4 linked regions of the Homo sapiens genome follow. The protein of the gene in region 3 interacts with the protein of the main gene of each other region in a biochemical or structural test. Each region holds a gene or a part of one and is shown on either strand. Other genes may lie near its edges.

Evidence for each region.
Region 1: the proteins of GRIP1 (region 3) and GRM3 form a complex in vitro, tested with the Homo sapiens proteins (one study listed by BioGRID).
Region 2: the proteins of GRIP1 (region 3) and THRA form a complex in vitro, tested with the Homo sapiens proteins (2 studies listed by BioGRID).
Region 4: the proteins of GRIP1 (region 3) and VDR form a complex in vitro, tested with the Homo sapiens proteins (one study listed by BioGRID).

What each region holds. Positions count from the first base shown.
Region 1 is NC_000007.14:86,639,911-86,646,913, forward strand, and holds the start of GRM3 (metabotropic glutamate receptor 3 isoform 1 precursor), read left to right. Parts: upstream 1-3,998; 5' UTR 3,999-4,962; intron 4,963-7,003. UniProt on the Homo sapiens protein: G-protein coupled receptor for glutamate. Ligand binding causes a conformation change that triggers signaling via guanine nucleotide-binding proteins (G proteins) and modulates the activity of down-stream effectors.
Region 2 is NC_000017.11:40,072,964-40,079,988, forward strand, and holds part of THRA (thyroid hormone receptor alpha), read left to right. Parts: exon of another isoform or gene 1-705; intron 706-1,228; 5' UTR 1,229-1,525; coding exon 1,526-1,578; intron 1,579-3,907; coding exon 3,908-3,975; intron 3,976-4,544; coding exon 4,545-4,645; intron 4,646-7,025.
Region 3 is NC_000012.12:66,676,074-66,683,933, reverse strand, and holds the start of GRIP1 (glutamate receptor-interacting protein 1), read left to right. Parts: upstream 1-4,857; 5' UTR 4,858-5,029; coding exon 5,030-5,084; intron 5,085-7,860. UniProt on the Homo sapiens protein: May play a role as a localized scaffold for the assembly of a multiprotein signaling complex and as mediator of the trafficking of its binding partners at specific subcellular location in neurons.
Region 4 is NC_000012.12:47,894,982-47,902,006, forward strand, and holds part of VDR (vitamin D3 receptor), read right to left. Parts: intron 6,730-7,025; exon of another isoform or gene 6,653-6,729; intron 4,978-6,652; exon of another isoform or gene 4,856-4,977; intron 1-4,855.

The sequences.
Region 1 (7,003 bases), on a different chromosome or scaffold from region 3:
CCACTGACTACCCTACCCAAAGCCTCTGGTTGTCTGCATTTCTCCTTCAGCCTTCTACTACCACCCTTTATGTGAATTATAAAATGGTGGCACCTCCAGGTTGATGAAGTATAGACAGGTGCCCTCCCACCATGTTGATACAGCCCTATGCACAAGCCTGGGCAAGCAGCTCCTTCTCACCTCTCAGCCAGGAGCCTTTGTGCAGACCACAACCTACAAGGTGACATTACCACAGCCCTGTGCCCTTCACAGACTGTCTACTGGAATCACAGATTCTCCACCAAGTACTTCTGGGTAGGGGCTAAGAAAACACGTCTCCTGCTCTGTGCTCACTCTACCCAAATAGAGTACACAGGAAACCCATCCCTTTTGCCTGACATAAGGGCAAGTGCAGTCACTTGCCCTATTTTATTTTAGTCCTCTGAAAGACAGATTCAGACACAGTGTTTTATATTTCTCTGCTGTGAAGCAGTTCACTACATCACCCTAACTCCAACGGAACATAGCAATGGTTTTCCTATAGCAGCAGCACACTTCATTAGAGTTGAAGCAAGGAGAAAGTATATAAACCCTCACCCTGGGCTTGCATATTTAAAAGAACACCAAAAACTCTCTATGCTTGTATTCCCTACCTTTCTTTTAACTCTCTTATATTCCACATGGATTAGGGATACTCCACTCGAATCCAGCACAGGGGGTGTGACAACTCTTACTTTGGAATATGGAGTAATTGGCTCCTCTTTGCATGGAGGCTTCAGTCAAAAGCAAGACTAGAATACATTTATTTTTATATATTGCAACAGTAATTAAAATAAGAATTTACAGATGTTCTAAGGAGAAACGTATTTTTGAAAGAAGTTGAAAAGTGAATGAGGGATGCTTATTAGCAAATTAAAGAGAATTTTAGTATTATATATTTACAAGGACATATGTACTTTAAGTCCCCAGAATAGATCAGTCAATCCTATTCTTTAAAAAATTATACAGAGGAATTTACAGTCACAGGGCAGATGAAGCAAGTAAAGGCTGAAGCAAGAGGTATGGCCAGATGACTAGAAGGTTTAGGTAGCCATATAATTTAATGCCCAAACCTGACACTTTGAGAAATAAAATGAAGACTATGAATACATTCAGACAACAGATGTAAACCAGAACTGTTCTGCATAAATTGGATGCCTGATTACCCTATGTGACCAAAATAACAGTTCATTCCTGACTGGTAGTAGAAGGCAACAATGAAATTGATCTCTGAAGAAAAACAGAGGTTTGCTTCAAAGAGAACAGTGCATTTCTGACTGGTAGTAGAAACCAACAAAGAAATTGATCTCTGAAGCAAAATGGAGGTTTGCTTCAAAGAGAATGCTAGTGAGAGTAAACTATGGATCAGCATGGGGACATGGAAGCCATTTTATTTGTAATTAATGATGACAGTACTTCCATTTTCAACGTTTATTCTGGATGAAAGATGGGACACTTTACAGGCCATATTTATTTGTTTTTTGTTTTTGTTTGAGGTGGAGTTTCACTCTTATTGCCCAGGCTGGAGTGCAGTGGTGTGATCTTGGCTCACTGCAACCTCTACCTCCTGGGTTCAAGTGATTCTCCTGCCTCAGCCTCCCTAGTAGCTGGGATTACAGGCACCCACCACATGTTCAGCTAATTTTTTGTATTTTTAGTAGAGAGGGGTTTTCACCATGTTTGCCAGGCTGGTCTCAACCTCCTGGCCTCAGGTGATCCACCCACCTCAGCTTCCCAAAGTGTTGGGATTACAGGCGTAAGCCACCGCCCCCAGCCTACAGGCCATATTTAAAAAATCACTGTAAAGAAGTCCAAGTGTTAATGGTAAAGACTCCTAAGAAAAAACATCATGATTTAGTTACTCAAACAAATATAGATGAATTAGTGAAATTTAGATAAACTAATAAAAATATGAGCTACAAGGAGTGATCTAGATGCCCAAATACATGTGTTTCACTTGAAAAATATTTGAGAAACTTGATACATCAGATGTAATTAAGAAAAGGAACTAGGATTGTTTAGAAATGGAGCCCAGCTAGAATACTTGGGGAGGGTGTGAAGAGAGGGATAATGTAATCTCTTAATTGACATGTTACTTAGTCAGAGGTTTTTATTTAGACCTATCCCTTGAGGCTTTTAAAAGTAACTCGAAAACACACACACACACACACACACACACACACACACACACACACACCAACAAATAAACATTAAAAGCCAATCTATATTCCCGATCAATGACGAATTTAAACAGTGAAGACTAATTGCTTTCAATTAAATATGCTCAACAATTAAAATACCATCAGTTAACTATTATATAAACCAGGGATTTTTAATAGTAACTAATATTTATATGCTTCTTACATGGATTTACTAATCCTCAAAATAATTCTGAGGTATGAGCAATTGTTATTCCCATTTTACAGATGATGAAACTGACATATAGGCAGGTTAAGAAACTTGCCCAAGTTCACGCAGCTAGGAAGTGATGAAAATTCAGGATTCACATTGAGGAATTCCTTTGTGTGTATGGCGTAACGTGGGAGAGGAAAGAAGTGTCTCATCAGGCAATATCTGATAACAGACTGATAATTTGCCTCAGCATTTCAGCCTCTACTCACCACAAGCCTTAGTTAACAGCTAGATACAGACTATGGAGTGCAGTTTATCAGCACTTTCCGTTGTGCAAACATCAGCTACTTTTGTGTGTGTGAGACAAAAACATCAGCTCTCTTCTACTTCTCTCAATCCCAGCTAATTCTGATAAGGTCTTGGAAGCGCAAAATGATGTCTTCTGGAACGTTCTGAAAGAGACCAAAATCTACCCACACAGCTTCATGAGGATCTGAAGCCTTGCAGTGTATAAATCTTTATCTTTCTCATGTTCATGTCATTGCCCCTTGATATACAGTTGTCTATTGGGCAGACATTGTTAAAAGTAAATAAATTCTTAAAATTAAAATTAAATTCCTATAAAGATCTTTTTTTGGTGAACAATTCATGCTGGAAAATACTAATGAAACACAAAGGAAGAGGAATTTTGCTTGTACGTGGTCAATGCTATTGCATTCCAGAAAGAATACGTTGAAAGGGGGACTTCTAAAATTTTAGCATTTCACTATATAATAACACTTTATTTTTTAATATATTCAAATTTCTGGATCTAGTGGAGTTCACAATGAAATATATATATATATATATATATATATATATATATGCACATGTGTCTTTTAAATATTGCTGTCCCTCTAAAAGAATCAGTAGGTAAAATTATTTCTGTAGTTTAAAAGTTCTGGCTAGGTTACAAAAGACAGCAATTGTTAAACAACTTAACATTAAATATTAAAGACTAAATGTAGCATTTAAAGCATTAAGTTTAATTGTGTCTGGCTTCATATAATTCAGTCCTTGGTTAATACAAAGTTAGTATATTAGAGTACAAAAATTAATGAAGTTTCAATTTGGAAATTAAACAGTATGTGTTTCTAGACATAGAAAGATGCCTGGAATTTTACCTTTAGGATTTTATCTGTAGCTGGCAGCCTATTAAAGCTGTTTCCGCGTGCCTTTTTCTCTTTTGTGCCTACGTCACCGATTTAAGGTTCCTATTTATTTATTTATTTTTAAGAAGAAAGAAGAGGTTCTGTAGGAAACATTGACTGTATCCGACAACCATAGCAGGACTAGAGAAGGACCAATGAGGGGGTGCTGGGGGTAGCTTTAAGAGGCGAGGTGGTAGCAGAAAAGGATAAGAAGAAAGATAATTCAGCAGTCCCCTATAATCTTATTCCACCCAAGAAATTTGGGAGAATGCGAAAAAGCAGCAGCCCAGCATTCCCGGATGGGCGTGGCTTTTCTCCAGGGGCTGTCCAATTGAATTCCTTCAGAGGGAGAAGATTGATAAGGGTTGCTAGGAAACAGGAGCGTCTGCCTCCCGCCTGACCCAGAGATTGTTCTGCACAAACCCTCTCCAGGGGCTCGCAGTGTGCAGTTGAGTCGCGAGTACGGCTGAGCTGCGTACCGGCCTCCCTGGCTCTCACACTCCCTCTCTGCTCCCGCTCTCCTAATCTCCTCTGGCATGCGGTCAGCCCCCTGCCCAGGGACCACAGGAGAGTTCTTGTAAGGACTGTTAGTCCCTGCTTACCTGAAAGCCAAGCGCTCTAGCAGAGCTTTAAAGTTGGAGCCGCCACCCTCCCTACCGCCCCATGCCCCTTCACCCCACTCCGAAATTCACCGACCTTTGCATGCACTGCCTAAGGATTTCAGAGTGAGGCAAAGCAGTCGGCAAATCTACCCTGGCTTTTCGTATAAAAATCCTCTCGTCTAGGTACCCTGGCTCACTGAAGACTCTGCAGATATACCCTTATAAGAGGGAGGGTGGGGGAGGGAAAAGAACGAGAGAGGGAGGAAAGAATGAAAAGGAGAGGATGCCAGGAGGTCCGTGCTTCTGCCAAGAGTCCCAATTAGATGCGACGGCTTCAGCCTGGTCAAGGTGAAGGAAAGTTGCTTCCGCGCCTAGGAAGTGGGTTTGCCTGATAAGAGAAGGAGGAGGGGACTCGGCTGGGAAGAGCTCCCCTCCCCTCCGCGGAAGACCACTGGGTCCCCTCTTTCCCCAACCTCCTCCCTCTCTTCTACTCCACCCCTCCGTTTTCCCACTCCCCACTGACTCGGATGCCTGGATGTTCTGCCACCGGGCAGTGGTCCAGCGTGCAGCCGGGAGGGGGCAGGGGCAGGGGGCACTGTGACAGGAAGCTGCGCGCACAAGTTGGCCATTTCGAGGGCAAAATAAGTTCTCCCTTGGATTTGGAAAGGACAAAGCCAGTAAGCTACCTCTTTTGTGTCGGATGAGGAGGACCAACCATGAGCCAGAGCCCGGGTGCAGGCTCACCGCCGCCGCTGCCACCGCGGTCAGCTCCAGTTCCTGCCAGGAGTTGTCGGTGCGAGGTAAGGGTCCCAGAGGAGGACGTGTCCCTCTGGAGGGCGCCCAGCCAGGGCGCGGAAGCTCGGGTGCCGCGTGGGGCAGGCGCAGCCGGGAAAGTTGAGGTAGAGCATGGACCAGTCCCTACAGTCCTGACTGGAGTGGGAAGGGTGGAGGGCAGAGGCGATGTGGGTGTGCATGAGTGAGAGTTTGTGTGTGTGCGCCCACGTCTGTGTCTGGGAGGAGGGAGATTTCAGGGCATAGATCTGCGGCCAGGGTGCGAGAGGTGAAGGGACGAACTAGCACTCGCAGACCCCAGAGAGACCAGTCTCATCAGCCAACCACCTCCATCTCAGCTCTGGGCTCAGAATTTGTTTCTATTTGGGGGCTCCCTAAGGCTTTGTGCACAGGAATCCGTGGATACGGGCGGTTTCATGTGGGTGTGGAGGTTGCAGGCAGAGGTGGGCAACGGTCAGCGAGACCTGGTCCATGCAGCCCAGATAAGCTCCGAAGCCGGAGGCGGCCAGAGGTTTGCCCTCCCGCAAGCAGGGTTGGAAAGGAGCCTTAACTCACTGCCCTTTGCTCCTTTTGGCTTGAGTGAAAAATCGAAAAGCCAGACAGGGAGCATATCTTTTCATCGACCCTGTTCCATTTTCTTATCTGACAGTGAGATAACTCAGAGAGGGCGGGAGATTTGCGATCCAAAAATAGACTAGGTGATATATCCAATAAGCTTGTTTCTTAAGGATTTCATTTAAATTTCTTTCTAGTTATTCCTTGGGTTATCAAAGGTGGACAATTCTCTAAGGTACAACACTTTTAGGTAAATATATTAAGGAAGGATTCTCCCACTTTAAGTATTTTAGATATTGTAAATTTTGAAAAACAAAACTATACACCTCTAAAGATCTTTGGTTAAGGACTCAACTAATTTGCTTATAAAAATATTTCTACTATTTGAATAGTAATAGATATGTTTGGGGTCTATATGTAGGTACATATTGGAATATTCAAAGTTGAGGTTAATGTGAGTTGAGGTAGGTGTGAGTTAAGTACCAACAATAGTTCCTTAGAGTTTCTTTGCTTGAATTTCTTAGAACTGTCCAGCACAGCTACAGTATGTTTCTTTGTGGTGGGCGGGGGGGTGGGGGTGGGGGGGTGGGGGGGGGTGGGAGGGAGTTTAGGGGGTGGAGTCTGCTTTGGTTTATCTGATCACACACTTTAAGATTCCTCTCTGAATTCTAATTGTTTGCAGAAGTATATTCAATATAGGCATTACTAAAGTAATCTAGATTGCCACTATGCTAAACTATGGATAACAGTTCCTAACAAAGATGCTTAGGACACTCTAATGAATAAATATGATTCTATATTCCTACGTACCTTGTTTCTAAAATCAGCCCAATAGAATTTGAATATATTTGGAAGCTATTGTATGCCAGAAATTATTGTAATACTTTTCCTTTCACAATGGGTAGTGTTTTATATTTACAAAGATTTCTTACACCTGTAGACTTTAGCTGTCAATCTTATTGGGTTTTGATCACCCAGCAGGAGTACATAGATATTTTGAATATACATGCCCAAAGGCTATCTTATGTTCAGAGTAACACAGGAGCTCAGGATGGAAAATGAGGAAAGGAAGTCTTGAAACCTATACCTTAACAAATAAAACAATGAAATTCCAGAATATCTACCTTTATTAGATGAAAAAGAATATGGCAACAATACCTTTTAGCATTGAAACCCCTCCTGCCCCTAGATACTATATATCTAGGTATAAAACTGTGGTTTTATGAGTTAGGCCCTTACCAGTGAAATGTGAAACCTAAATCATAGAAAATTATGCCAGTACAATGAATAGGCCACACTTTGGAGCTTGAAACAGATGTCTTTCTATTTATTTAAATTGAATGGTATTTTTCAAACTTCAGGAATATATGATCAGTAACAAGAAAATGTGTGGAAAGCCACACACACAAAAAAATCTTATAATTAAAATATACTCTGTGACCTACTTATTTTTGCACAATGGGCTTTTTAAAAAGTTGTGGTATACATGTGAAA
Region 2 (7,025 bases), on a different chromosome or scaffold from region 3:
GGGCCACTTTTCTGTGCAATGCCCATGCTCTCCACACTACCAGCTTGCCTGGGTGCAGAGGCCCCGTTCTGCTGCTGGCCCTGCCCAATCCCCTGACTTATCTCCCTCTCTCTTCCCACCCTGGCTGCTTATCAGCTCCTGGGGGTGGGGCCAGGGGGCCTAGGGGTGAGGTCTCCTATGCAGCAGCCACGTGACAGAGGTTGAGGTCGTATGTTGGGGAGCTGTACCCTTTGTCCCCCTCCTACCCGCCACACCTGCCTGTGTGCACACAGACAGTAAGCCACAGGTCTGCAGCCCAGGGTCAGAGGTGCAATGCCGTAGGAATGGTGGGCCCGGCTTGGCACTGCCCTGGACTCCAGGTAGCAGAACAAGGCTAGCATTAGGGCCAGGCTGTGAGGCTTATCCCACAGCCACCTGCTTACTAGTTGTGTGAACTTGAGTGAATGACCAAGCTTTCTGAGACTCAGTTTCCTCATCTGTGAAGTTCTCGTGCCCTCTTTGGAGGGTACAGATTCTCTCTCCAGTTAATATGTGTTAGTTTCCTTTCCTTTCCCCCTTGCCATCCTGGTCGATAGCAGCTCAGCTAAACCAACTGAGAAGTCTGGTCCTCTGCCTGGGAAGTGGGATTCGAGACCTTGCGTGGGAAGCTCTGGAGTCCCTGAGGGGCCAGAGTTGGGGATCATAACTTGGCTGGCAGCATGGGAGGTCAGTTCCCTACAGCTTTCAACATCTCTCTCTATTAAGGCACAAAGATGGGCATTCATGCTCACTGCGTGCCGCTCTATGTCCCATCCTTCCTTCACAGATACCCTCCCTGCCTATGCTGAAAACTGCTTGTCTCTGGTCCCCTCTTGCCCCTATAATACAGATGAGTTTCAGGAAAGCTTTTCTAGAGGGGTGGTAACAATAGCTAGTGTTTAATAGTTGCTCATTAAGGGCCAGGCATTTGTCTGAATATGAAGACTGAGACATATTACTTAGTACATGAATGATCTCATTCTCTCCCTCCATTCCTTCCCATGTCTGGGGCTTAGGAGGTGGATCTCCAATCTCGCCTGCTGTACCTGTTATCTAAGGGATCATCCTGGTCCCCTCTCTATGCCTGCCCTTCCTGCCCCCTGCTGTCTTGTTATGGGATCCCAAAGCCCCAAATGTTGCCACCAAAGGGATCCTACCCACCTTCCTACCGTGACACCTTCTTACCCCTGCCTCTCTCTTCTCTCCACAGGGATCTCTGGACAGGACAAGACTCCGAAGCTACTCCCCCAGCACACAGCCCGGGACCCACAAACCCAGCTTGCCCCCAGCCCTCCCACCTGCCACTCCCTGGCCCCTCCCACCGCCCGCCCCCCTTGGGGCGCAGGGCATGGTGTGAAAGGCCAAGTGCTGAGGCGGGTATCATGGGTGCTGTGCCCTAGGGCCTGGGTGGCAGGGGGTGGGTGGCCTGTGGGTGTGCCGGGGGGGCCAGTGTGCCCACCCCAGTCTCTTGGCGTGCTGGAGGGCATCCTGGATGGAATTGAAGTGAATGGAACAGAAGCCAAGCAAGGTGGAGTGTGGGTCAGACCCAGAGGAGAACAGGTAATGGGTTCAGCAACTAGGTCATGCCAACTCCTAAGCAGCAGGCATGGGCACCTGGCTGAGCTCTCCTTTAGGCACCGCCTTTAAGCACCTCTGTGGGATGGACGTGAGGCCAGCAAGCCTTCTGCCTACCTTTGTCTGGCAGATGAAGTCATGTTCAGATGTGACAGGCACTTGGATTGAGAGATGCTCATTTTGAAGCGGGGAGCGATACAGAGCAATTACAGGGAGCACATAAGGGGCTCTTCCCTAGACATTGCTGGGCAGTCTCAGATGCCCCCAACGTCCCTTCCACCATTGCTGCCCTTACCTTGAGCATGTGGGATCCAAACAGCCTTGCCATTTTCTTCCTCTCCCTACCAGCCCATTTACTATCTGACCACAAGTGTGTTGTCCACAAGCTGCGGTTCACGTAATACATTTCAGGGCACATGCACCAGTAACTATTGGTCATAGCCCAAGCTTATATTCGGAATCTATTGGGAGCCCCACAAGCTCTTCCTTGTTCATGGTCAAGGGCGGGCACTGCGATGGGGCTCCTCCCAGAAAGTGCACGCCAACCATGATGGTTTTGCTTCCACATGGGTGAGGTGTCAGCCCTGCACATACACCAAGGGATGGTTACCTGTGATCTGCATTGCCCTTGAGGAGCCCAGAGGGTCTCTGTCTTTTCTATCAGCTCCAAGTGGCACAGAGCTTTGTCCCAGTTGGCACGGTGCCCTGGGAGCTGGGTACAGCCTGTGCCTATGGCCAGGGAGAGGGTGGGGGTGGGGGTGCTCCGGGGAGCAGTGTGGCTGACTGTTGCCTAGGAGATCAGATCCCGAGCCAGGAAGCCAGAGGCCTGGCCAGGCAAAGCCCTAAGGCCCACAACTGGGTCCCTGGAGGGTAGAGGAAGTAGATGGAACTCACAGCTGGGCAGGGCATGGGGTAGCTCCCCTCCCCCAAAGCCTCACCCCAGGAAGGACTCTGAGGACGATCTGGCCTGTCGCTGTGTGGCTGTCACTTGCAGCCCCTGTGTCTCCCAGCTTAGGCTTCTGTGGGTCTGGAAGAGTCTGTGCTTAATGTTTGGAGAAAGGCAGGAATGCCAGTTCCCAGTCTCCTAAGACTGCAACCCCTCCCCCATCACCTTCCCCTCCCCCATGTCTATGCGCCACCTTGTGGCTATCTCTAGGACTACACTCAGAGGCTGTGAGTCTGGTGGTAACTGCTGAAGCCGCTAGCTCAACTGGGGCCTAGGTGGGCTGAGTTCCCCTGCACCCAACCCTCTGGGAGGCGTGAGGGAGACCTGACCTTTCAGCCTCATAGGAAGTAGACCGGAGTAATCCCCACGGGGCGTGGAGCATAGGGTTGTCTGTGACTGTGACCCTGGCCAAGGTCACTGTGTCAGTGTGTTGGGAGCTGCATCCGGCTCCAGGAGGAAGGGGCCTGCAACATGCCACACGCAGGGTGGGTGCGGGAGGTTATACAATCCTTGCATGCATGTAGAGGGCTTATGTAACCTGTGTGCACCGAGGTTATGCAACATGTATGTGGAGAGCCTGGCAACATATATGTGCAGTGGCTGAGGGTTGCTAATAATACGCTGCACAGAGGGGCTCAGTCCCGGCTCTGACTCTAGCTCATGGTGTCACCAGGCACAAGCAGGGTCTCAGTTTGCTGCTCTGTTAAATGGAGGCTGTGCAGAGGGTGTAGTGTTTTCTATTGCTGTGGGTTATTTAGCATGTGTGTATGACCTGGAGCTCAAGCAACACGTGCACACTGGAGGGATGAGGGTGGTTTTATGAGGTGCCTGTGCAGAGTGTTGTGTAACACATGGGCATATCCTAGAGGTTGTATAGCACATTTAAGAATGCCCTGAAAATTTCACAGGTATGTTGGCCCTGGTGCATACTCACCATCCATGGGTTTATAGTGAAGGTTGCATGGTTATTCATCTGTGCCGGTGTTATGTTGCATATGTATGTGTGTGTTCTAAAGGCTACATAGCTTTAAGCATATCCTGAGAATTCTTCCAGCGTATTCGTCATGTACTGAAAGATGAGGATGTCCTGCAGATTATGGGTGCTTCAGGTCTTCTGGCGGGTGAATGTGTGTGTGTTGGGGCTCTAGAATATGCTTGTGCCACAGCCAAGCCCCTTATCTCTCTCCCCTGCAACTTCCAGATAACTGGACCCTTTTAAGCATTGTCAGCTGACCCTGGGGGGTGGGAGGTAGAATGAGGACACAAAATGGAAAGAATCAGGCCTTGGGGGATTGCATAAGCCTCTCGGATGAGAAAGGGGCTACTCGAAGACTGCTCTGTGATTCTGCCCACTTTGCCTCCATCCAGTGCCAGGTCACCAGATGGAAAGCGAAAAAGAAAGAACGGCCAATGTTCCCTGAAAACCAGCATGTCAGGTGAGGCTGGCTGTGCGTGCCCCTTCTCCACGTCCCCAACCCCACCAAACCCAGCCAGGGCTCCTCTGGACCTGGATGTGGAACAGTAATTCATGTGTTCCCTGGGGGGAGCCTCCTAGAGGGCTTGGGATGGACTTGTCTGGGGGTGAGAAAGGTAATGTGGGATGTGCCCAGCTTTTGAGGGTGGATTAGGTCAGGACGGCCTCTTCCCTCTTCCCCTAATACCCTCATCTGAGGCCCTACCAGAATCAGGGCCTGAGCTGAAGGACTGAGGGGCTGTATTATCCCCAGTGAGCAGCTGACGTTTATTTTTCCCTCTCCACCATCCTCTGCCTTGTAGATAGATCAAGAAGAAAGCCCTGAATGGGCAGTCAGAAGAACTGAGATTCTTCATACTCTTAGGGCAGAGATGGACAGGTTCACCTCGTGTCTCTCTAGGATTCTACCAGGGAGGCTGGGCTAGGAGAGGGGTCAGAAACAAAAAGTTGAGGGATGGGGAAAAGTGTGAGAGCCTCTCTGCTGGGACTCCAAGCCATGCCTGCCTTCCTCCATCCTTTCCTTCCTCCCAGGGTATATCCCTAGTTACCTGGACAAAGACGAGCAGTGTGTCGTGTGTGGGGACAAGGCAACTGGTTATCACTACCGCTGTATCACTTGTGAGGGCTGCAAGGTATGGAAGCTACCTCCTGCCCCTCCCCTGCCACCTGAGCCCCCATATTACTCCCTATGTCACCTAAAGCCCGCCTGTTAGGTCATCACTTTTTTTTTTTTTCTTTGAGACGGAGTCTCACTCTTGTCCCCCAGGCTGGAGTGCAGTGGCGCGATCATGGCTCACTGCAACCTCCGCCTTCAGGTTCAAGTGATTCCCCTACCTCGGCCTCCTGAGTAGCTGGGATTACAGGTATGCACCTCCACACCCAGCTAGTTTTTTTGTATTTTTAGTAGAGACGGGGTTTCACTATGTGGCCAGGCTGGTCTCGAACTCCTGACCTCAGGTGACCACCCGTCTCAGCCTCCTGAAGTGCTGGGATTACAGGCATACCTGCCTGGTTACTTTCTCTTCTCTTCTCTTATTCATTCATTTACTCATTCATAACTCCTCCTCTGCCACTCACAGGAAAATTGCCTAACTTCTTCGAGCCTTAGTTTCAGTTTCTTCATCTATAAAATGAGGATAATCATTCTCTCTACCTTATAGCATTGTTGGGAGAATTAAATATGTTGGGAGATAGTTCACTTGAAGTGTTTAAAACAGTGCCATTGGGTGCTGTGGCTCATGCCTAAAATCCCAGCCCTTTGGGAGGGAGGCCAAGGCGGGAGCATCCCTTGATCCCAGGAGTTTGAGACCAGCCTAGCTAACACAGTGAGACACTGTCTCTACAAAATTAAAGAAATTAGCTGGGTGTGGTGCCACATGCCTGTGGTCCCAGCTACTCAGGAGGCTGAGGTGGGAGACTGCTTGAACCCAGAAGGTCAGGGCTGCATTGAACGGTGGTGGCGCCACTGCACTCCGGCCTGGGTGACAGAGCAAGATTCTGTCTCAAAGTAAAATAATAAAATAAAATAAAAAATAGTGCCATGTGCATAAGAAGCATTTGATAAATGCCAGCCATCACCCATTCATTCAGTGTATTCTTAGGTGTGAGAGTGTAGTACGTACCTCGCCTTCAAGCTGCTCACAGCCTGTCAGAGAGAGAGACACAACTTGAAACAAACATCAGTGTTATTCAAAATGTGGTTCATGGACCACCTGTCCTACTAGTTAAAATGCAGATTCCCAGCCTTCATCTTTTTTTTTTTTTTTTTTTTTTGAGATGGCATCTCGCTCTGTTGCCCAGGTTGGAGTGCAATGGTGTGATCTCGGCTCACTGCAACCTTCGCCTCCCGGGTTCAAGCGATTCTCCTGCTTCAGCCTCCTGAGTGGCTGGGACTACAGGCACCTGCCACCACGCCCAGCTAACTTTTATATTTTTAATAGAGACAGGGTTTCACCATGTTGACCAGGATGGTCTTGATCTCTTGACCTCGTGATCCGCCCGCCTTGGCCTCCCAAAGTGCTGGGGTTACAGGTGTGAGCCACTGCGCCCAGCCTGCCCAGGCTTCATCTTAACCCTGCTCACTCAGAGCCCTTTTGTGGAGCCCAGGAATCTTCCTTTTAACAGAATCCCGGAGTGTTTCCCATGCACCTGAAAGAGCGAGAGCCAGTACTGGGGGGGTAGTGGGAGCTGGGAGCACAGAGGAGAAGAGGACAGCAGGTTCTTCCAGGCAGAGGGGATGACAAGGTCATAGATTTTGGGAGGCCTAATTGTTTTGTTTTGTTTTTTTTGAGATGGAGTCTCGCTCTGTTGCCCAGCCTGGAGTGCAGTGGTGCAATCTTGGCTCACTGCAACCTCCACCTCTCGGGTTCAAGCAATTCTCCCTGCTTCAGCATTGGTAGCTGGGATTACAGACACCTGCCACCAAGCCTGGCTAATTTTTGTATTTTTAGTAGAGATAGGGTTTCACCATGTTAGCCAGGCTGGTCTCGAACTCCTGACCTCAGGTGATCTGCCTGCCTCTGCATCCCAAAGTGCTTAAGAGGCCTAATTAGATTTCACTTTGATCATTTCAGCCTGGATAGCCTTTCCAGGATCACCTCCTAAAAATGCAAGGCCTTCCAAGAAACAGAATTATTTAAATCCCAGCACTTTGGGAGTCCAAGGCAGGCAGATCACCTGAGGTTACCACACCCGGTGGCACTGTTTTAAACACTTCAAGTGAATTGTCTCATTTAATTCTCCCAACAGTGCTATAAGGTAGATAAAATGATTATCCCCATTTTATAGATGAAGAAACTGAGACTCAGAGAAGTTAGGCAATTTTCTTGTGAGTGACAGAGGAGGGATTATGAATGAGCAAATGAACGAATGAGTAAGGTCAGGAATTTGAGACCATCCTGGCCAACATGGTAAAAGCCTGTCTCTACTAAAAATACCAAAATTGGCCAGGTGTAGTGATGTACGCCTGTAATCCCACCTACTTGGGAGGCTGAGGCAGGAGAATCTCTTGAA
Region 3 (7,860 bases):
CCATTCTCTCCTACATAATACCTCCATAAACAGTTGGACATACCTAGGCTCTTAGGAGGATGATTTCTGGTAGATTTTTCCTCTTGTACAAGCATTTCTCAATTTCTACATATTCTATCTTTAACATTTTCCACCAGATGCTTTTAGCTGATGAATTTCTAAGGTTGTTACCTTCACAGGAGCTTTCCTGGTCTCTTCATGTTCAGTGGAGGCAACCTTCTTTCCTTGGCACTGTTACGGGCATCAGAGCCCTGCCTAGATAAGCAAATGACACATGAAGTGTGCATTATACCCACCCTTTTATATCACAACACACCAGAGGCCCTGAGCTACTAAGTGCTTTTTAATCACCCCAGATTTGCAAGAGTATGTCCTAATGACACTTCCTAAAGGGCATCATTACTTCTATAAAAATGTTTTCTCATAAAATATTTGCTTTAAAAAATGCCTGATAAATTCTGTCTTGGGCAATTACACCAACTTTTCACACCCTTAGAACCTGTGTCAGCAAATTGGGTCTTGCTTTTTTAATAGTCCTTCATGACAGCTCATTACTGGCGAGTTCTGTTCAGTGTACATCTCCCTTGTCTGACCCTAATGTTTGGTCTCATGTTGACACACTAGTTGAACTAAGTAGCAGACAGTGGTCACAAGAATTATAACATGTTTGAGCTCATGGTTGCTTTTGGCATCTTTGAAAAGGGAAGTAAAAATGGCCGATTATAATAAGCTAAGAATGAGTCAGTGACGTTGTCTGTAAGGAGATGAAAAAGTGGGTGAGAGTCGCATTTTAAGACCTCCGAGAACACTGAGTTTTAAAATACCCGGAAGATTTGGGAAATACACAACATTTAATAACTGTGTATGTGTTGCAGGGTAGGGGGTGTGGGGATCAGTATATTCAATACTAGCCAAGTCAGGATGTTCCATGCTGTTTAAATAGTGAGCTAAGCATGTTAAGCATTTTTAAGCAACAGCATGCAAAGGAAAAGAAATGTAATAGTTAAATGAATAAGCAAATAAATGGGATCTATCAGGTATATTTTGTAACAGAAAGATTTATGAAGTTGAAGAAAGTGCAAATTATTTTAGCACTTTAATCAAATTGATTCTAATGATATAAAATAGTTGAGTATTTGTGGGATTAACCTCATTGTTTTGGTTTTTTGCAAAATGAATTTCCAGGTTTAGGCATATGGCAGAACATTTTTGGTTTATGATGATTCTTTCTTGTTAAGAATCAGAAGAACCTCCAAACAGCGCTATTTATTTTTGGGATGGAGATGTTATATAAAAGAATGAATACAATGGCGGAGAATCAAGGAAATGAGAAAATTAGAATAAGATTATGGGGCTATGTGTGCCACCTGCTGATGAAGCTGTGGAATGCTTTGGTTTTGAGACTATATTGGAATCTTTGAGCCAATCTTAAGGTTTTGTTTGTCCATACACCACAACCCACCCCCTTCTTATGATAAAATTAGTACCATATTGTCAATGGAGGTGATATTCCAAATATTTCAAAACCAGCATGACACAGGCCAGTCAGGATGGGCTAACCATGCAGTGAGAAGGGATTCCTGTAAACACTTGATACGTAATGGTCTTTCACCAGACGGTACTTGCCTTAACTGTCACCTGTTTCTGGTTCCTTCTGGTCAGGGTGGTCCTAGAACCATGAGCTGTGCTTCAGAGGGGAGAAGGTGATAGGCACTAGTTTTTCCCTCTGTCAAAAGATAACTGCACTTAAAGGTACTTTGTTAATTGAATTTGTCCCCCTGTAAACTAGATCACATTTTGTATTGGTGGCAAGGAAGCAGTGAAAAACAAGAGGAGAAAGAATGATTAGCCAGGGGTGAGAAGCTATGGTTCTTTCCTGTTCTTTACCACTTACTAGCTGAATGACTTTGATGAAAAACACCTTCTCTGAAACCAGTTTTCCTTTTCTGCATCAAAAACCTATAACAGAGTCGCTCCATGATACATTATGTGTGAAAGTGCCTTCTAATTCATTAAATTCTATGTAAACGTGGTACACTTGTATTACACCTTAGCAAAACTAATGTTTTAAAGAAACCCTGAAATAAGAATTATCATCTTAAGGGACTAGTCTGCCCTGAATCCAGCAAACCCATGTTTTCATGTATTGAGGTGTTTGTGTTTTTAAGAGGGGTAAACCTCTTGAACTAGCTCACTCACTCTTCTTCAGATCACATTGGGGCTTAATCAAATCTGTATTTTGTACAATTTTACCTGCCTTCTTTTTCCATAACCCCTACTTGGTGACCCTCACAGAGCATGTTGTAAAGTTTGAACTGTCTAGACAGCTGAGCCACCATAATTAACATGTTCATGACAGGTCCCAAAGACACATGCTTACATTGATCTGGTAGCCAAGAAATGTAGGTCACTCTGCCTTGTAGTAGCTCATGTTAGGAGCCTGTGGTCCACATTCCACCGGTTGCCTTGGCCATTTGAGACCTTCATCCTACAGATCGATACATTTTGAGATAGAAGGCTTGCATTGTTGGAAGGCATTTTACCAGTGCTAGAGTTCAGGATGGGAGGCTAAGCTTGCATTAGGCAAAGGGAGGACAAAGGGTTTAGGGCAAGAAGGTTGACCTGGGAGTGGCTCCCCAGGAAATCTCCAAGCATTAGCGAGGCCAGAAATGGAAGAAGATGGGAATACCTGGTGAATTCGTTCATTTTCTGGAAAAGAATTACTCCAGGAGGCTCCATTTCTGTAAGATTCCTGGGGCTGCACCTGGGCAGACTAATAGGATAGATATGGATTGGCAGCCACAGTATTCAAAGAGAGAAAAAACAATCCCCTAGTTTGGGCTCTCAGAAACCTTTCAAAGAGCTCCATGATGGGTTATTTCCCCTGCCAAAGAAATAGGACATTTTAGTAGTTCTGAAGACCTTTCTTGGGACCAGAGGATAGAGCTTTTAAAACAAAACAAAAAAAATAAGCATATTAGGAAAAGGGGAAAATATTTGATCATTTTAGTCATAAGGAAAAAGCAAATTGGATTTGAGTCTGCAAAATAGCAGAAGGCAAGAGATTCCTGTATGGTTTTGAGTTGTATTTGAATAGACTGGGCTGGGGTGGTGGTGTTCCACAGGCAAGATTCTACTAATAGTAATTGACAGCTGCGTATTCTGAGTGCCTGGATTTTAGGAAATATGTTAGATTTGGAGAAGAATCTTGGAAAGAGCTAACTGTAAGTATTTATCTCACTTTAGCTAGTAACTCAGTTCTCTAGTACTAAGGTATATTTCTATTTAAAGCAAAAAAATATCAAGGAGGCTAAACTATTTCTAGGGATAACCTAATAGAGATGAACATAATATGGGTTGAAATTCAAAGAAAGATTTATGCTAATCAGAACAATTATAAAAATTTGATTTTGCACTGCAGTCCATTTAATATAGTATTTTCTATTGATTAGTGGTTGCTTTAGCTAGACCATCCTTGGTAAAAGAATTCTGTTCTTTTCAAAAACCTTTAAAGTAGATGCTTATGATATTCAGATGTTTTTCACACACAAATTATTTTTCTATTGGACTCAAAATACAAAGCATATGCATTTCAATAGCAGTGGATTGAAATTGTTTGAGTTCATATTGAATTTATGAATGAAGAAAAGAAAGTTTTACCACTAAATTTGGAATGTTGGAAGTTATTTTAAAAACCAGCTTGAAAGTTTTTTCACAGCCTGAAGAGTAGAGAATAAAACTGTATGAATAATTCATAAAGTCCTAGAAATATTAATCAAGTAGTTTAGACAGTGATATATCTTTTCATTTTGACTAATTGATTTTTTTTTTCTTAAACTTCCTGGCCAACTGTCTAATTTTTTGTCCTGAATGTTTATGTTAACTCCTGTGGGAGAATTCTGGATTTTGATTAAAATTCCCTACCAAATGTTAGTTCGTATTGACTATATGGCGAGCAGGCTGCTGCTGGCAGATGAGGAGGTGTGCTCCGCCTTCTTATCACTTTGTGAATGGATTGTGAAGGGTTTGTTAATTTGCTCTTCACTCCATTGGAGCAGATACTCACAAATATCTGCTATGTCGCAAGACCGTTTTATTTGCATAATGAGAAGAATGGTTTGGGGGATGGTTGTTTGGGAAATAGTATAATAAAGTATATTAAAAATAGAAATACTTGGCCTTGTTTGCCTTTATTTCTGGTATCTTTAGAAACAGTCTTGACTGTGTTGCTTTCCAGCCAAGTCCTTTTTTGGAAGGGTGATTAAAGGGGCTGGGACTCCATCTGCCTGATTGTCTGCCTAGCCCTAACCCTTTCTTGTATTCCCTCTATAAACAGACACTGCCTTAACTCTCATAGGTTCAGGAAGTACCAAAGAGGTCTCTGTCCTAGAGCTGCTTCCCCGCTATAGGCAGAACTGTGATTCTTTCCTCAATCCCAAATATAAACGGCCCTCCCTCTTTTTCTTTCCTTTTTTTTTTTTTTTTTTTTGGTTGTTGTTTAAAGAACATAGTACATGACCCATGCATTTCTTCCTAAAGTAAGAGTGTAAGCATTTCACTTGCATTTCCCATTAAATGAGACATATAAAGGACACTGACTTGATGCTGAGAAGGAAAGGGGCTGATGGTGGCTGAACTGACTGGATACATCGCCTTTTGCCTTAAACAGAATGCACTGTTCAGTGCTTAGCGTTAGATTTATGGAATGGCTCCTCACACAGTGTCGTCCCTGCTTTGTACAATTTGGTGCTTTGTTGCTATCGAAACGGCATTACTTTCTAAGCCATTGTGATTGTGAAGGGGGAGGAGGCTGTGGCAGGCAGGGGTGGTAGTAGTAGTGAATGACACAGATTTGCCAGATGACATGTAGCGGACCTCTGCATCAGCCAAGAGGAATTAAGCTTTGTCACTCCCCACTGGGACTACCTTTCTCCTGGTATGTGCGCAAGGAATTCATATGCTGCTGCTGCTGCAGCCACCAGAGCAGAGAGCCTTGAGTACACTTTGCCACAGAAAGCAGTGAGCAAGAATGATAGCTGTCTCTTTTAAATGCCGTTGTCAAATTCTGAGGCGACTTACTAAAGGTATCGTGCTTTCCTTGTTATTCCCTCAGCGAGTCTGTTGCAGTATCCTATAAACACAGTTTAATGGTTTTTACTTTCAAATATGACTGCCTTTGCAATTTATTGTCAGGCAACAAAGAACTCAGTGAAATATGTATAGATACATATGTACAGGTAGACTCGGCTTTGCTTTCTGTCCTTACATCTCGGTTGTGTTCGTGCTGAAATTATGAAAGCAGCTTGTGTGATTTTTTTTTTAATGACTTCATTCTTTGCTGAAAAGAGAATGTGTTTGGGTCCGGTGCTGAAGTTATTGTGGGAAACCGTCATTTTGCATGCTGATTAACTGGCCAAAAGGAGTCAAGTGTGTGTTACTGTCCTTTCTATGATACATATACTAAATGCAGCTGGCAGATTCAGGACTCGCACAGCTGGTGGATCCACAGAATAATTGTTTGTTCTATGACTTTCCAACATCTTAAGAGCTTTTTCCCTGGACAGCTTTAATTTCTTTATGTGTTAGAATTGCATGTTCAGAAAAGTATGTAATTCCAAATGCTTTGGTCCTATGTAATACTAGAAGTTTATTTGAAAGTAAAAATCATTGCTCGGAATCTTATCATCAAGAATTACCAGCTTCAGATTGTCACTCTTAGAACTCTAAAATAGTAATTAAATTTCTCTGTAATATTTAAGGTATTATTTTATTTGAAACCATTCTGGATGTGCCATCTCGTTTACTTTGTGAGCATTCTATTGCAAAGTTAGTAAATGGATGCCTTAAAAATCCTGCCTTGTGTCCATATAGATATGTGAGCTCTCTTGCCTTATTTCCTTTAGATAGAACCTTCCTTAGAGAAAATTTATTATTTAAAAAAAAACTTCATTCTGAGTAAAAGTATTTAGTTGCAAATGCCTTTCTTTTTCAGCCTGTAATATAGAGTACTGTTGAGTAATTAATGGATATAATTATGTTCTAGAAGCTCTGAACCTATAAATATGTTAATGGATGCTATTTCTGTCAGTTTAGCTTGACATATCAGAATTCTTTGATCACCAGCAGTGCAGCTAAAAATGCAATTAATATTTTATCTGGCAGAAGAATGAGCACAAAGCAAATCATGAGAAATAGATCTTGAGTCAATAACAGGAAAGAGAATAAATACTGTAGACCAACTTACCGAATGCATTTGCAAGTTGTTTGGATAGCAGAGTGAGTCCTTTAAAAGGTACTTTGGGGGAAATGTAGGGAAGATTATACATTTTAAATTAGGCTATTAGCAGGAGGCTGTAAATTCTGTTTTGACTTTATCCTCTACAATTGGTACAGACGTACAATTTCTGTTTATAAATCATGACTAAGAGACTATCCTTTCTGTTACGGTTTTGGCTGAGACTTTTAAAGGCAGGCCCTTATTCTGAAAAGTTCTTTTCTGACCTGATTTTGGCATTTACTTATCTTGATGTTGAGAAGTTGATGGTCTTCTTACATCATAAACATGAAACAATCAGTATTTTCTATTCATCTGTATCAGTTCTTTTATAAGTACTACATACAAGGAAGAGAGTGAACCCAAGCAATTTATAGTTCTTACAAATATTTTTAACTTTCTCAGTTTTCTGAATTTTATGGAAGCATTGATCTCCTGCATTGAAAGGAGATTTAAGTGTTTACTAAGATAGTCGCTAAAAATCTAGATAATTGAGGAAAGTATTGATAACTGCTTTGGAGTTGCTACCTCACACTTTTTTCCAAAATCTTTATGTCTGCTCTATTTGGTATTTAACTTAAGACTGTCAGTTGATGATTAAAATAAAATCTCTTTGCAGAATCAATTTGCCATAATTGGGTTCTTCTTTGTGTTTAACTGGCTGTCCAAATACTTACAAGAATGCACCTGAGTAACACGGTACCTTGCCTTGCCATCTGCTTCAGTCTTGTCCAACAACGTTCAAGTTCCACCCATGCTTCTTGTTCCAAAGTGGATTCATTGAGTTCTAGCACCCCACCCATACTTGTGGTGCTGTTTTCTTAAGCTGTAATGATAAAACCAGGAAACATATGTAATTACAATATTAAAATGACCTTTCTTTTAGGGTCAGGAGTGTATTTGGGGACAGGGGTGGATATACACTTGAAGTTTCTTTCTTGTCCCATTCTCCCTACTCACACAACTCCCACACCCTCACCCTCAACTCCCAAACATACATATTTCTTTATACCCATTGAGGGCTCCACCTAACACTCACTCTTCCAGACATTTAGCACAAGGCATTACACTTAGTAGGCACTTCAAAACTGTTTGTTAAAATGAATTGGATTTGTCTAGTTGAAAGTAGTAGGGCATTTAAATCTTCTGTGAGCTCTTAGGAAATGCTTCAAGAGCTTTATTAGGCCTCTTGTGGCTAAAACCTTACCCAGATCTTAGCAGGGGGAAGTTTGCTTCATGACTCCAAAACTACCTTGCTATTTGTGGTTGATATCACCCACAAGAAAAAGCAATATGGCAATTGCAATTTCTTCTTAATTTTCTTAAGGAGAAAATGATGGAATAAAAGGGAAACAATTTTCTACAAACACCCACATTCTTGATATTTTTACTTGATTCTTACATTCTTCATATATCTAATACATACTTAACAAATATCGATTAAGTACCTACTATGTGCCAGACACTGACATTTTTGCACTTAGAATTCTGGGCTGGGACAATTTATAGGTGTAAAAAGCATTTTTAAAATGAATATATTATTGAACAATAAATATTTTTTCTTTAGGTCAGATGTAATTTTAAAA
Region 4 (7,025 bases), about 19 Mb from region 3:
GCAAGGAAGAAGGAGAAAACACTGCGACTTTACCAAGCCTCCAAAAGGAGATTCTATAAGACTGTTGTGTCAGCTGAGATAAATATTTCAAATGTGTTATAAAAATTGTTACACTCTAAAATTACACTCTATAAAAATACTAGCTATTGCATTACTATTATTTTTCCAGGCATTTAAGAATAGGAGAGGAGGAGGAATAAATTCAGGTAAAAAGGGGAAGGCTGTGAAAAAACACCTTGAACGATTGCATGGAGCATGATCCATTCATTCGTTGTCTACCAAGCCCATCCCCAAACTTTCTCCTTTTTTTTGTGCCTTAAGACCCTATCCTCTGTTAGTTTCCTTTTGATTTTTCTCACACAACTTTTCTTCTAATACCTATGAGGAAATACCTTCCTGAGAAGACAGAGTATGGGAGGGAGAGAAGGAGGAGGGGAGAAAGGAAAGGAGGGGAAGGTATTCTTGGAATATCTTACTCTGAAAGCTTTCTTTCTAACTCACAAGGAAGAAACACTCTGTATTATAAAGCTATTATCACATTCTGGGAGGGGTACCTTCTAGTACGTTAGTAAGGAATTCTACAGGAACAGGGTTTTTCCTATCCCACTCTATAACAGTTACCTGTTAAAAAAAAACTACCAGAGGATGCAGTGGAGCCTGCAGGGCAGACCTGACTGTGATGTTTGCTGTTTGCCACCCGTCCTTCCCCAACACCAACAGTGATTACACATTTCATTTTTTTTAAATTGGCTGTCAATGTTTTAGAAATCAAGAGTTTACATTTTTGAAAAAAAATCTGAATGTCCAGCTTTCTATGAAAAAGTCAGATAATCTGGCCACACCAGGCTGAAGCTCCTGCCGGAAGCCTGCTGGGCCGAGAGGGGCTGCTCCCATCAACCAGCGTGTGCTCTCCAGTCCATCTCACCGGGTCTGCATCCCTCCAGCCTCACTCATGACCCACCTGGCCCTGGCCCCCTGACCAGCACACACTGACAGCAGAGCTCACGGTTAGAAGTGCAGGCTCTGGAGGCAGCTGGCCTGGGTGTGCCCAACCCTGAATTCTCCCTACCACTAGCTGTGCAACAAGAACCAATGAAATGCACTCTCTAAGCTTCTGCTTCCTCACCTGTGAAATGAGAAAAATAACACCACCTACTGCATAGTCTGTGAGGAGTCCATGAGATAATCACGTCAAGTGCTCAGCATAGTGCCTGGCACGTAGTACCTGCTCAGTAAACGTTAGTGCTTATTATTGCGCACAATTACTGCAATGACTAAGGAGAATTCATCTGAGTTGCAGCCCAGTTTTTGAAGATGATTTAATGACACAAAGCAATTGCCCTTCAACCCTCCTTTCTTGCTCAGGCACCTGGTCTACAGACAAAACCATCTAGTGAGTATATCTGTGACATGTTAGTTATTGTGTGGAGCAGGGGCACTTCAGAGACAGGATTCAGATCTGTTCTCGGGGCTCGGAGTAGAGTGGGGGGAATGGACGATGACAGCACTGACAGGTGGAGTTACGCACAGAGCTCTCCCCACAAGCCCTGCCCAGGACCACGCAGGAGCTTGGCATTCAGGAGGACCTGGGGGTGGGTCTGACTCTTTTCTCCTTCTCCTTCTAGGCTCCAAACCTTCGGGGGGCTTTGCTAAAAGACACCCAACCTCGAATTAGTTCCACTCCATTTCCAGTTTCCCAGGCTGTGCACGTGGTTTCAACAAAGCCGGTCAGACCTCAAATGGAGTTCATTATAATGGAATTTTACCTGAGGCAGCCCCTCCCCCACTTCTTAACATCATGGCACCCAAGATATGGGTGTGCTTGCCAAAGAGGCTGGGCAGAAGTCACTTCCTGCCCCTGGCAGAAGTCCGGAAATTCAGAGCCGTTTGGAACAAAGAACTCTGCCCCGAAGGTGTTTTCCAGCATCTCCCTGGCCAGATTGGAACTGCCCCATTCACCCTCGTACCACCTGCTGCGTTTTTTCCAGCCCTCCTAGACAGGAAGGGGAGGAGGGAAGACTGAGCTGAATGACCAGGACACTGCAGGAAAGGCAATGCACAAGTGAGGAAGAGAACATGCACTCTGGACTTAAGCCTGAATTTAAATTCTGGTTCTGATTTAGTAGCTCAATGTCTTTGGGCAAGGAATTTAGCCTCTTAATCTCTATGAACCTTGGTTTCCTCTTCTATAAAATGGGTATAATTTTACCAGCCTCGTAGGATTATTGAGAGGCATAAATGAGAAAATGCATGAAAAGCACTGAACATAGTACCTGGAACATAGTGAGTTATAGTAACCATTGGTTATTATGATTGTCAGCTATTACATAATATGGTAACCTCACAAGGGTCAAAGGTTGGTATAGAAAGAGACACTGGGTGGAATTGGGGTGAGGGGATGGCTGGAGAAGGTAGAGCCCTGTCCCTGATCCCAGCACAGGCCTGGGAGCCAAAGTGAGGCCCAGGGCAGAAGCACCTGCCTGCCCGGAGCTGACAGGCACAGACTGGATAGGTAATTACAAAGTTGAGAGCTGAGGTGGCCCATGCAACTGTCCAGCCAGCCACATTCCTTTGTCCCATGGGTGGATGGGTGGTGAATATCTGGCTGTTTATGTGGCTACCAGGATGGTGAGTGTAGTTAACACCTCTTTTCCCCAGTAGTCCTAGCAGGGTATTCGACCTTCAAAGGGAAAGGGATTCTCTACAGGCATTTGGCTCCTTTCCCCATGGCATCGCCTCTGTTCCCTCCACTCCAATCCTCCAGCTACCCCTTGCTTCTCAGGTTAAACAAGTCAAAAGGCCAAAGAACAAGGCCAGACTCTGAAGAGATGGCCAGTAGAGACTACTAAACTTCACCCCATCTCACTGGAGCCCTTAAATGATCAAGAAGCCCAGGACAGACATGAATCCATCACTGCCCCAGCCCTGTGTGCTTTGATTAGCCAGCAAACTCATGGTTCTTATACTTCCATGTCCTTTTCTCAAAACTGATGCCCAAGGAAAATATATATTCCTCCCCAGGTATTAATTGAGCACATAGTATGGGCTCACTGCTGACACCAGGCTCTTGGTTGAACTGAGGAGACCACCAAGTGTTTGGGAGGATGTAGAACCGTGGGATCCCTCAAGCACTGCTGGTGGAAGCCCAGAGAGGAAGGGCTTCAACTGTACTTAGAGGCCCAGCACAGAGCTCTCTCTGAGACATGTCTCAGGCTGTGACATGTATGTGGTCACCTGTACAGAGTGCAGCAGACAGGCACACACATGAGCCAGAAATTGGGTCCCTAGGTCATGAATAATACAACTATTATAGCTAATCATTATAACTGTAGAAACTCATCTAATGCAACTTTTTCATTTTAGAAATGAAGCCTGTATCAAGTGTTGAAAAGGATGGAGAACAATGGAGACTTTCATCCACTGCTGGAAGTGTTTTTTGGGACAACCACTTTGGAAAGCTGTTTGGCACCCTATAGCAATGCTGAACATAGAATTCCATGGGAGGCAGCAATTCCAACCCTAGGTATGTGCCCTACAGAAATTCTTGTGAGTTTCTCATGAACCAGAAGACAAGTATAACATGTACACCCCTAGCAGTACTGTCCTATCGTAATAGCTCAACTGGAAACAACCCAAATGTCCATCAGTGAGAGGAGGATATACAAATCGTGGTGTATTTTTCCAATGGAATTCTACACAGCAGTGCAAACTCATGAACTGCAGTGGTGTGCATCGACATGGATGAACCTCAGAAAACTCATATTGACTCAAAGAAGAGTGCATCACAGAGAACACACAGGTATGCGAACTTCAAAGCCATGTGAAATGAAACAACATAGTGTTTTGTAAAATCTACATAGATGATAACTTACAAAGAAAAGCAAGGAAACAATTAACCAAAATTCACTTTGGGGTGGGGAGTAAGGAAGGGGAATGCAAATGGGGAGAGGCAGAGGGGGCTTTTAAGGTGCTGTGAATGCTCCACTCTTAACTTAGGTGGTAGGTACAGGGTATAGGATTCTTTAATCTATACATAAACATATAATCTTGTGTATGTGATATATCGCGGTTTTTAAAAATGAACAAAAAAGAATTGAAGAACCCAAGTTGCAGAGAAGCTAAGTAACCTTCACAAGCTCATCAGCTAACAAATGACAGAGAAACCAATTTGCCAAATCTGAGTTTAGTCAGGTGCCAGGACAGCCATTCCTGAGTTCTAAACGGGCCTCTCACAAGGACAGGCTTCTGGGCTAGAAATTTTGAAAAGAAGTGCAAGAGTCTCTTTTTTCCCCACTGTTAAATTCCCAGTGTCTTGACTAGTACCTGGCACACCGTAGGCTCTTGGCCCATATCTACTGAATACACATGCCTTTCAAGGGCCTACTGTGTGCCAGGCACTTGACTTACATCATCTAATCCTCACACAGTCCTACAAGGGAGCTATTACTATACCCAGTTTACAGGTAAGGACACTGAGATTTGGACAGATTAAATAACTTGCCCAAGGTCACAAGCTACAAAGCGACCTCGCCAAGATTTGAACCCAAGAGTCTAACTCAGACCCTGTGTTTCTCCTGTTCTGCCAGGCCACTAGCTTCTAACAGCACTACCTAAAATTTTAGTCATCTACCAAGGAACCCTGAGACCCACAGGGGGTGGGGCAGGCTGAGCATTTTCTCTTCCTGCGACCTCTGTCTCCAGGCTCTGACAAAGCGGTTTGTATGGCCAGGCCCAGGGCTGGCAAGCCGTGTAAAGCAGTGGTTACAGGCTGACTCTGCAGCCTTGGGCAGGTGGCTGCATCTCTTTAGACCTTGGTTTCCCCACTATGCCTGCTAGAGAACATAACTGTACTTACCCCAAAGAGAAGCTATGAGGATTGAGGGAGGCAAGCAAAGCAATGTGCACGGGGCCTGGCATGAGGCTATCAGAGGAGGCTAGAGTCCATTTCTCCGTCCAGCTGGGCTAGGTTCAGGAGCCCTTAAGGGATAGCCAGGAGAGGGAAAAGGTAGGCAAAGTGAGAATAGCTCCCCATTGGCCAATGGGACAATCAGCACATAGTAGGTTTTCAATAAAGATGCCTGTTTGAAAGATTGTTTCCTATTTGCCTTCCAGACTATTAGAGTCATATTTGATTCCACACAATTTCTCTGCACAATCCTACCTCTGTTGGGTTCTTGTTCTTAACCAGAGTAAGGTGCCCAAGACTGCCAGAGAGGCATGAAGATCTAAAAGTGCTGGCAGAGGGAGCCTCCTTCTGAGAGGCCACTGTCCCCAGAGTAACCTTTGGGCAGTCCAAGCCTGTTCTCAGGTCAACTTGTTCAAACTAGTTAGTACATCTAACCTCTCAGCTCATAAACATTTACTGCGGGTGTATAATGTACAAGACAGGGCACTAAGTGCCCTGTGGCCATCCCATGAATGCAGAGGTGGGAGAGTTCCATGCAGGTTAAGAGCATGGGCTTCTGCAAACCTGAGAGGGAGTCGTGGGTTTCCTCCTCACAGGCTATGACAGCTTGGCATGTTGATTAACCTCACAGAGACTCCATTTCCTCATTTGTAAAGGGAACATAACTGGTTCCTACCTCACAAGACCTAGTGATAGGTCTGGGAGGCACGTAGCACAGCACCTGTTACCAAGTGAGTGCTCAGTAAGTAGCTGAAGCTACAACTCCAGTACCAGCAGGTGGCACACACTGGATGTGTCACCAGCAAAGCCTCGGGCCTCATGGGTATTCCACAGTGCCTGGAATGTCCCACCTTGCATAACACCTCCAAGCTCCAGGTTGTCATCAGAAGGCCAGTGAGAGGCAGCAGCTTCTCAGGAACCAACTGCCGAGTCTGCACAGACTCCGCTTTCCCGCCGGTGCAGCTGCCCACACCCTGCTTAGGACCAGGACTCTCCCCTGTGCAGAATGAGGACTTTGTATGGCATCTGGTTCTGGGAACACCACTTAGTCTATTCCCTGGCACAGGACCTGCAGGGCAGGTTTGCAAAAGCATGACACACATTCCAACTCACAGAGTACTGACTGCTTCTGCCTTCCACTCCTGCTATTCACCAACCAGACACCCCCATCCTCTCCCAGCCAGCCTTGGGGTGGGGCGGTCTCACCACCTACCCCCCTTGCCCACAAGTCACTTCAAAGACATGACTTCCCAAGAGATCTTCACTTGCACTTTTCATTTGTTGGCAGTGAGAATGACTTCCTTCCTGGCAGAGTAACTGAGAGTCACTACATGGTCATCGTGGCGGCTCTGCTCCCTCCACGCCTATGCCCGATCACCCACAGGCTGGACCTCTGGGGATCCCACCCTTTGCATCTGGACCATGAGGACCCAGGACCCAGAAGGCAGGACAGTTTCTCTTCCACATGTCGCCACAGCGGGATGCAGGCACTGCCATCAACGCCTGTCACTTGGATTGAGCAAGAACAGCCTCTCCCCACCCTGGACCATTTCCCCAATAGTCAGACCAGACCAAAGAGGCAAACTCTAGTGTCTTTGGGAACTGACTCTGTCTCCTGCAATGCAGCTTCTCCCTGGCTTTGGCCTCCACTTTGCTTTTCATTTCCCCGGAACCTGATTATAGGTGACCTATGTCCTTTATCAGAGTGGGCGAGGTTTGCCTACCCTTGCCTTCCTGGCTGCTTACCTGCTTTACAGCCAGACTTTCTGTGGGATAGTGTGGTCCCCAGAGGTCTGGGAAGCTGGATGAGCAAAATGTGGAGGCTGTAGATATGGAGGAAGAGGGAAGAGGAAACGTGAGGCCCAGTCTTGGCTCCACTATGAACCCCAATTTCCCCAGGGGAAGCTGAAGAGGAGTTGGCAGACCTTCCTGTCCCTGTCTGAGGTTGGGGTGGGGCAGGAAAACCAAAGGTGAGGCCAGTCACAAGTCAAGGGTGAAGGGAAGTCACACGAGTGGTGGGCTGGGTCCCAGGACAGGGTGGCCGGGAGCAGTGCCGCCCCAGGGAAAAGACGAGAATTGGCTGATAACACCAGGGAGCAGGCTAGGGTGTCGGGGGCTG